Linked DNA regions of Homo sapiens. The protein of the gene in region 1 purifies or fractionates together with the protein of each later gene. This does not show direct contact. Each region holds a gene or a part of one and is shown in the gene's direction. Other genes may lie near its edges.

Region 1 (5,494 bases):
TGGATGCTGCCTACATGAGCAAGGTGGAGCTGGAGGCCAAGGTGGATGCCCTGAATGATGAGATCAACTTCCTCAGGACCCTCAATGAGACGGTGAGGACCATGGAGCTGGGTGACATGTCTTATCCTACCCATTCTAACCAGGGAGCCATCTGGTCCAGCCCCCCGCCTCTGTGTCAGTCCAGATATGTGTCAGTGTGAGAAACAAACTCATCCGTCCAAACCCAAAGAATGGACTCAGAGACCTGGAGAACAGCGAAAGTGAGATTTTAATGACAGTCTTGCAAGATGGGTGTCTGATGGGCAGGCATGCCCAGCACAGCCACAACAAGCAATTTATCCTCTAGTGCACAGGTCCCTCCCTCCGTTCCTCACAGGCTGAGTACTATGGGGTCACGATCTTCCTGGACGTTGTCTATTGGTTGTTGGGTTGGGGCTTTAGGTGTTTTTTTTTAGGTTGTCTTGCTGCATTTTATTGCAGCCTACAATGCATTGCAATCCTAGTCAGCTCAAGGGCTCTTTAAGTATTTGACTTATGACCTAAGTAGCTGGGCAGGCTGATAAGAACAGAAAAAGTGAGCCATTTTGCAGGCTAGAAAACCTTCATTTTAGACTAAACTTCTTTGGTTCAGGTGAGGGCAAGAGAAGCTGGGGGCTGACAAGCAGGCACTGGCTATTCAAGCAAAGGGCTAGTATATCCTATTTCTTCTGTAGTTTGCTGACCTAAGCCAATTTAAAGCACTTTGTCTTGGAAATGGACCATTATATACATTATTTCCTTCATCAGGGGTTGCGAGGATTTATCCTGCCCTTTATCCCTTCTGGACTCAGGAATTCAGGACAGGCTAAGGATTCGGGAGGAGGTGGGGGTGAGTCAATCAGGATTGACCTTGGAGAGACATGGGATGATCGCAGCATTTCTAAGGAAGGGGGATTGGGTGGGACTGGAAGGAACCAGGAGGAGGTCAGGGGACTCCAGGTTGTGACAGGGTTCAAAGGTGGGCTAGGTAGGGCCAGCAGGGGAGCCCAAGTCAGGAGAGACTGGATTGCCTGAGCATTTACTCCCAGAGGGGCTGGGTGGGTAGCTGCCTGCCAACTCACCACTCTAATGTCCTCCCTTCCCTTCTTATTCTCTCCCTCTCACCCTTGTCCTCCGGGGTTTCCAGCTCTTTTTCTTCAAGGGGATTTAAAAATCTCTCCACTCTCATCAGTGTGAGTCTCTGGCCTTAGGCAGAAGGTAGGGTGGCCAGTCACCTGGCAGAGGCTAGGCTGGGCATAATTAGCTTGTGAGGTTAATTACAAACCAGTTCTTCAGCCTAGTCTTTGCCTGAACGTCCAGTCTCCACCAGCCCCTCAGAGCAAATGTCCACAGATTCATTAATTTCAGGGGAAGTTTCTTTGAGGCTTGCTTCAGGCACTTCTAATCTCAGGTCTTCCTGGGTCTATCACATGGTTTATTTATGTGTAAACACACATGTGTACACACACACACACACACACACACATATATATAAAGTTTTCTTTTCATGGTGAAAGTTTAGTTTATTTATGTGTAAACACACCTGTGTGTATATATATAAAGTTGTTTTCATGGTGAAAGTAATACATACTCATTGCAAAACAACCAAAAAATTAAGTAAATCGTAAATTGAAAATGGATTACTTGGCCAGGCGTGGTGGCTCATGCCTGTAATCCCAGTAGTTTGGGAGGCCGAGGTGAGTGGATCACCTGATGTCAGGAGTTGGAGACCAGCCTGGCCAACATGGTGAAACCCCGTGTCTACTAAAAATACAAAAATTAGCCAGGCATGGTGGCGGGTGCCTGTAATCCCAGCTACACGGGAGGCTGAGACAGGAGAACTGGTTGAACCTGGAAGGTGGAGGTTGCAGTGAGCCAAGATTGTGCCACTGTACTCCAGCTTGGGTGACAGAGCAAAACTCTGTCTCAAAAAAAAAGAAAAAAAAAAGAAAATGGATTACTTATACCCAATGCTACCATCTTTGTGTCTACCTTTCCAGACTTTTCTGTGCTTACATATACATAAAGATATAGAAATATACATTTTCAATAAAAATAGCATCATGCTTTATTTTAATTTTTATTATTATACTTTAAGTTCTAGGGTACATGTGCACAACGTGCAGGTTTGATACATAGGCATACATGTGCCATGTTGGTGTGCTGCACCCATCAACTTGTCATTTACATTAGGTATTTCTCCTAATGCTATCACTCCCCCCTCCCCCCACGCCCCCGACAGGCCCCGGTGTGTGATGTTCCCCGCCCTGTGCCCAAGTGATGTCATTGTTCAATTCCCACCTATGAGTGAGAACGCATCATGCTTTTTTTAATGCAACAGTATACCATGGGCATATTCCCCACAGGTAGTTGGAGCCATATCATCGGTGTACAGACTGCAGAGTATTCTGTAGCATGGTGGAATATGATAATTTCATCCATTCCCCATGGCCTCCCTCACAATAGAGCTCGTGCACCTACAGAACCTCACAGTGAGAAGTCACCACAGCGCACCACACTGTCCCTTTCCTTATCCCCTTTAACCCTGCCAGATTCTCGTTTGAGACACTGCTAATGGGCCCTCAGGGAGCCAAGGGTGGGCAGAATGAAGTAACTTAATGTGTGCTGGGTCTGGGCCCCCTTGCTGCCTGGTGACTCAGCCCACTCCCAGCTGTTCTCTCTTTTCTTTCCTTTGTGAGTGGGGAATCCCAGGGTGGGCGTGGGCATAGGATCCTGCCCTAAGTCCTGATGTCCCGTCTGGTCCCTACAGGAGTTGACAGAGCTGCAGTCCCAGATCTCCGACACATCTGTGGTGCTGTCCATGGACAACAGTCGCTCCCTGGACCTGGACGGCATCATCGCTGAGGTCAAGGCGCAGTATGAGGAGATGGCCAAATGCAGCCGGGCTGAGGCTGAAGCCTGGTACCAGACCAAGGTGTGAGGCCACCAGGGGCGTATTTCCTCCTGCCAGGGTCCTTGGTGGCAGCTTCCCTTACTCCTCAACTTGTCTCAAGCCTTCAGGGCCTGGGTCCCACTGTTCTGGCAGGCACCAGTGGTTTAAGTCTGTGGTGCTCAGCCCTGGAGAAAATCCCAAGATGGGAGGACAGGGCAGAGGAAATAGATATGGATTAATCATTATAATAGCTAAAATATGGCAAGTACTTACACAGTACTAGGCTCATGTAATTATTGACTCATGTAATCCACAGAACAGCCCTATTAGATAGGCATCATTATTACCCCCATTTTGTTTTATTTAATTTAATTTATTTTATTTCTATTTTTTGAGATGGAGTCTTGCTCTGTCACCCAGGCTGAAGTGCAGTGGTGCGATCTTGGCTCACTGCAACCTTTGCCTCCCTGGTTCATGTGATCCTCGTGCCTCAGCCTCCTGAGTAGCTGGGACTACAGGTGTGCACCACCATGCCTGGCTAATTTTTTTTGTATTTTGAGTAGAGACGAGGTTTCACCATGCTGGCCAGGCTGGTCTCAAACTCCTGACCTCAGGTGATCCACCTGCCTCGGCCTCCCAAAGTGCTGGGATTATAGGCGTGAGACACCGCACCCAGCCTATTACCCCCATTTAAAGATGAGGAAATTGAGGCACAGAGAGGTTAAGTAATTTGCCTAACTGCATACAGCTAGTAGATGGAAGAGCAGGGACTAAATCCTGAATGTGAGGGCCCTAGACCTGGGAGGCTTAATCATCACATCTACTTCATGGTGGCAGGACAGTTGATGGTGCAGGGGCTGAGGGAGCAGGAGTGGGTGCTGGGGTGAACCAGTGTTCCTGAAGAAGGGATCCCGAGGCAAGGATTGAGAGGTCTGCCCCTGCAGAGATAGAGAGTCATTCATGGTGCCTGGGTGAGAACACAAGTATGCCAACAAGAAGACCTGGGTTCAGGCCCTCGTTCCATCACTGATTGGCTGTGTGATCCCTGGGTGGTGCTTTCTCTTCTCCAAGACTCACTCTCCTCACCTGTGAAATGGGTGTTCTGGGTGTTGAATGGGTGCGAATCTCAAACTCTCAGTGATTCTCCAGCAGAAGGGCATGGTGGGAGTGGAAGAGCCCTGGGGTCCATGGGGATGGGACTGCGGAGCCTTGTCTGTCCTCCCTGCCTGGCTTGGAGGAGAATGAATCCCTTCCTCACACTGCTGTCTGGTCTCCTGGCATCGGGCAAAGGTTGATGGGAGTCAGACTGTCCTTCCCTGAAAATATAAGTTGGGAGGGGCCTTGGGTGGGGAGAGGGATGAGTTACCTGTACTCACTGCCCATCTCTCTGCCATAACTCTCTGTATGGCCCCTCCAGTTTGAGACCCTCCAGGCCCAGGCTGGGAAGCATGGGGACGACCTCCGGAATACCCGGAATGAGATTTCAGAGATGAACCGGGCCATCCAGAGGCTGCAGGCTGAGATCGACAACATCAAGAACCAGGTGGGACAAGTCCTCCTGGCTTCCCCTGCTACTTGGGGCATGCAGGGGTGGCCAGCTGAGGCCAAACTCAGGATGTGGAGCAGGAGGTTCCCATCTCCCGGCCAAAGCTGGTGCCACTGTCTCAGACCCCCTTGTGAGATCTCCAGCACAGAATGTTCTTGGCCAGGTCCTGGCATGGGCTGATGGGAGAAAGGTCCTGGATGTGCACAGAGCCTGTGGAGGGAGACTCAGGCTGGCTGGCCAGAAGAAAGCCACCACTGGTTCCACATTGATACTGAGCACTCTGCTTGCACCTGGTTCTGGCTGCAGGGCGCTGTCCCTGGGAGCTCATCATTCATTGCAGGGACAGAGGACAGCAGAAGACCTTATAATGACTCACATGGCCCTTTCCCACCCACTCCAACCTCACTTTCCACGATTCCCCTCACTCTGCTCTGGCCATGCTAACCTGCTTCCTGCATCTTGCATTTGCCAAGAATGGTCATGCTTCAGGGCCTTTGCACTTGGCGTTGCCTCCCCCTGGAATGTGGTTCTCCCAGCTCTGTCCATGGTTGTTGTTTTCTCCTCCCTGGGGTTTAGGAAAAGACCCCTTCTCAGAGACGGCACTCTCAAACACCAGCCCCTCTATCGGCAGCCTGTCTGAAGTTCTTTGAAGCCCCTGTCACTCTCTGAAATGTTCTGTCTTATTCATTAAGTGATTGATGGTCCCTACCTCCACTGGAATATAACAGATGCCTGGAGAGCAGGGACCCTGTCTGTCTGGTTCACTGCTCCTCTCTTCCAGCACCTGGCACATGGCAGGGGCACGGGTCTCAGATGAGAGACTGCCTGGGAGGATGAGCTTTGCTGGAAGCTGGGGTTGGAGGTGTTGATGGGGGAAGGGCCCCCAGCCCTGGCTGAGTAGTGTGTGGCCAGGGCAGCTCAGCCTGTGCAGGTGTCTGCAGTGGAGAGAGGGGGAGGGCACACATGTGGAAGCTTCGGAAAGCTGATTTCCAGATGAGCTGTGGGTGGTGGGGGGATGTGAGGGTGATTTACCCACA
Region 2 (4,496 bases), on another chromosome or scaffold:
AACCTTTTATCATTGATTAATTGATGGATTGGTTAAATGTTCATTGGTTACTAGAATGTAAGCTGAAGTCTTGGACTTTGTTTTTTGTTTTCACTGTGGAATCCCCCCATCTAGAATTATGCATGGCACATATTAGGAGTTGATTAGACATTTATTGAATGAATGAGTGTCCAGGGACAAGTCCAAGTTAGATGTTCAAGAGTAGAGGGAAACTTGTAAGTAGAATCCTTCAGTAATGGGCTTTACATATAAGAATGGATATCCATATAAGAATGGATATTCTAATAACTCTTGAGGTTACAGTAGGGAGAGGTAACTCAAGAGAAGGCTGAAAGTGAAAGGATAGAGAGGAGAGTAAGGAGAAAGTTTAGCTCAAGTTGCTGTTATTATAGGCATTATATGTGAGAGGCAGAAGATATGAAACAGATGTAATCCATGTATGTAAAAATCATCTTGATTCCTCAAAACATGAAAATCCTGACCATCCAGAACTTGCAGGGGTTTAACCAGTTTGAGTAGCCAAGTCTTCTCCTTGCCACTTTAAGTGTCAACATTTTAAAAGACATTTTAAATAGGAATAATTCTAAAATATACCAGTATTATCTTGTTTTCTAAATACAGTGTTTAAACATTTAATTTTCTTATTACCCAAAAGCATCATTAAGAACAACAATTTTTAGATTATTATATAACATACTAAAATCTGCAGGGTCTATTGAGATTTGAAATGCTACTTGCTTCTTCCACAGAGGCACTCAGATTGCTAGTCTCCCTGCCACACACATTTAAGCACACACACAACACCCCCATCATTTTGATTCTTTTTTCTACTTTTTCACATTTGTTATGTTTTCTGGCCATTTGCTGTTTTTTGTGTTGGCATCTGTTTTTCTTACTGTTTCTAATATGCTAAGTCCTTAGGAACTAGATAATCAAGATTTTTGAAATTGTTTAACATAAAAAGTGTTAAATGTGTGCCTGGCTATCATCTATGTATAGTGTGCATAAAATGGACAGATTTTGCTGTTCAAAGGTATTTTTTTTTTCATTTCCTGTTTTTGGACTGTGTTTCAGATAGACAAGGTTGCCAGAGGAGTTTTCTGATTGGGTGAAATATTACAGTATTTCAAAGAAACATAAAAGAAATAATTCATATTTGTCCAGTAAAACAAAATGCAGTGCTATCATCATGTATTTGTTCTCTGTCTTACTAAAAATTTGGGTGGAGATGGGGATGTTTATGTGAACATCTTGAATTTTTTGGAAAACATTTGCTTTATATAAGTACAAAATACTGCAATTGAACAAATGTAACTGGCAAATTGAACAAATACCTCCTGTGCTTTGTTGTGGGAAAATCAGTGAAGGTACTTCACATTGAGAAAATAAGACAGGAAACACTACCAGACAGATAAAGACACAGCAGATACTGAGTAGCCTGGGAGTCTTTCTTGGAGAGATCAGTATAGATCAGAAAGTTGAGGAAAGCTTCATGGGAAGCTTGAGATTTGATGAATGATTTGTAAAAAATAAATAATAATTGGATAAGCAAAGAAGAGTGGGATACCTTTCTAGACTGGTGGAATTAACATAGGTAATAATATACGATTTAGAAGGAGCAGTAAGTGAAAAGTAATAGACTGGTCAACCAAGTCACAGTTCATGCTTTTTCCCATCCCATCTTCCTCATCTGTAACTTAGAATTCATAATATTTACCTTTGGAAGTTTGTGGTAGAGAGCAAAGGAGGTAATAGAACAAGTGTTTGCAAAACCATAAAGTGTACTTCAATTTTGTAAGATGGTACATTGCTTTTATTAGTAGTAGAAAATGGAGTAGATCACGTAAGACTAAGCTTTGGAAAATCAATGGTAAATAGTTGGTACTAGAGACCTATAGTAAGTTTTTTGAGCAGACGAACAGTGGTATTTCATAGTAGTCTGGCTAGACTGGTTTCAAATGGGGAATGGAATCTAGAAAGTCTCATGTATCACCTAATTATTATAGCTATAGTGTTAAGTTTTAAATTATTATAAACATTTCTAATATTTTCTTGATTATCCAACTTTGTGGAATTATGCTTATTAAATGCTTATTAAAAATATTTTTCTTTTTTTCCTAACAGTTTGATAAAGGGAGACCCAGCAGCATCTTTGCCCATCATCAGCTATTCTTTTACCTCATACTCACCTTATGTAACAGAACTTATAATGGAATCCAATGTAGAGCTCATAGCAAAAAATGACTTGCGCTTTATAGATGCTGTCTATAAGGTATTTTGAGTTTATCAAACAATAACTATTAGTTATTGAATGATTTTTAAAAATTAATGATTTAGTCATAACTTCTTAAATATATGCAGCATATACAATTGACAGGATATTTTCATTTGTATTTATCTCATTTAAATGTAGTCTCTATTGAAATCAAGATGCAATTCATGTTTGCTTTTTGAATGTTACCTATTCTAATAAATACAGCAACTGGTAAATATTTGTTGTTGGCTATTGTTTGCCCTTTTTAATCAAATTTTAGTAAAATTTGATATACTGGCAGAAATTAGAGAGTAATGTAATTATATTCAATAAAACTTACAGTTTTTTAGAATTATATGTTAATTTAGTTGTTTGTAAGAAGGAACTATTACTGACATTTTTTTTTTATTAAACTGATATATTCTTTGAGGTCTGAGAGCATGTCTTATATTGTATCTACCCTAGTATTTATACTTGTACTATGTGTATACTGAATTTAATCTCTTATTTGATTTTTTTAAAACCCTGCTTTTATCATTAATTTTTGCTTAAGTACTGTGGTTTGTATTAAAGTTAGTTTTTAATGGTAAAAACCCACTTATCAAATGTAGTCTATTTTTTTTTTTTTTTTGAGACAGAGTCTTGCTCTGTCACCAGGCTGGAGTGCAGTGTCACGATCTAGGCTCACTGCAGTCTCCGCCTCCTGGGTTCAAGCAGTTCCCCTGCCTCAACCTCCTGAGTAGCTGGGACTACAGGCGTGCACCGTGACCACGCCTGGCTAATTTTTTGTATTTTAGTAGAGAGGGTTTCACCATGTTGGCCAGGATGGTCTCGATCTCCTGACCTTGTGCTCTGCCCACCTTGGCCTCCCAAAGTGCTGGCATTACAGGCATGAGCCACCGCACCCAGCCTCAAATAGTCTTTTAAAAAAAGCAGAGTTGCAGTCAATGAAATGGGAGCTTTTATATGTAGTCTCTGTTTAATCTTTCTCTTTCTTGCTTTTGATCCCAGAAGACATCCATGGAAGCCTAAGAGGCACTTTTAAGAAATTCTAGAGCTCCACAGAGTAGATTTAGGAAACTACTGATCTAGTGTGTTTTTTTTCATTTTACAAATGAAAAATTGAGACCAAAAGGCCTACTGACGTATCCAAAAATCACATAGTGGAAGAGTTATAAACAAATAGAACTATAGTTTCTGACTCTGGTATGGTATTCTAGTGAACTAAGAAGTTTTTCTAATATCTCTGAAGATATTTACACTTTTTGATGATTGACTATATTTTTCCATCTCTCTGGACAGACATCTGTTCTCCAGCATATCCTTTGCTACCTGTTTTCCACCTGATACCTGTCTTACTGGATCATGACTTAACACCAGCCCTATGAATTACTTTAGTACTCTTTAGTTAATGGCTTGGTTTTCCTTGTCCTCTCAAAGGTGGCCATTATTCCCCTGACCAGGTGGGCATTATCATTTGGAATTTTAGAAATAAATTGCTCCCAATTATTACAAGAGTCTGTTTCCTCTGCAGCTTCTTCGTGATCAATTTAATTATAAACCAATTTTGACAAAAAAGCAGTTTATCCAATGTGGGTTTGCAGAATGGAAAATCCAAATTGTTTGTGATATTTTGAATTGTGTGATGAAAAAGCACAAGGAATTAAGCAGTCTTCAGAAGGTAATTTTATGAATAGATATTAATGCTGATGTATGCTATTAATAGATGGCTCAGTATTTTAATGTATAAAATCAAAACCCTAGACAGCAAATTATTTCATAGTGTAATTACTGTATTATTCAAAGATTTGAGTAACCTTATAAAGCTTGTTGTTTATTTTAAATACTACTCTCTTGTTTTATACACCTGTGACTGGGAACTCCTAGTGTTAAACTAATAGTTCAAACATAATACATTTTCATTACTTCTTAGTTTTTAAAAGTCATGTAGTCTCATTAGAGTCTCATTATTTGTCAGCTATATTTCATATATGAAAATTTAAATGTTAATGGAATTTTAATATATAATTATGCTTTCACACAAAATTTGTTATTTTGACTAATACCTTTTTTTTTAGATTCCATCACAACAAAGAAAGAAAATCAGTTCTGGTAAGTCAGAACCTCCTTTGGGCAATGAGAAAATATCTGCAGAGGCTGTTGGCGTTGATATCAGTGGCAGGTTTATGACCTCAGGAAAGGTATGCAACCACAAAGAAAATATCATATTGTTTAAGAGTTA

The links. Proteins that work in one complex are often made in the same cells at the same time.
Region 2: the proteins of KRT7 (region 1) and CEP44 purify together in Homo sapiens (affinity purification with mass spectrometry; one large-scale study listed by BioGRID and IntAct). This does not show direct contact.

Annotation. Positions count from the first base shown.
Region 1 is NC_000012.12:52,238,684-52,244,177, forward strand, and holds part of KRT7 (keratin, type II cytoskeletal 7), read left to right. Parts: coding exon 1-92; intron 93-2,788; coding exon 2,789-2,953; intron 2,954-4,328; coding exon 4,329-4,454; intron 4,455-5,494.
Region 2 is NC_000004.12:174,299,915-174,304,410, forward strand, and holds part of CEP44 (centrosomal protein of 44 kDa), read left to right. Parts: intron 1-2,124; coding exon 2,125-2,272; intron 2,273-3,788; coding exon 3,789-3,935; intron 3,936-4,332; coding exon 4,333-4,455; intron 4,456-4,496. UniProt on the Homo sapiens protein: Centriole-enriched microtubule-binding protein involved in centriole biogenesis. In collaboration with CEP295 and POC1B, is required for the centriole-to-centrosome conversion by ensuring the formation of bona fide centriole wall.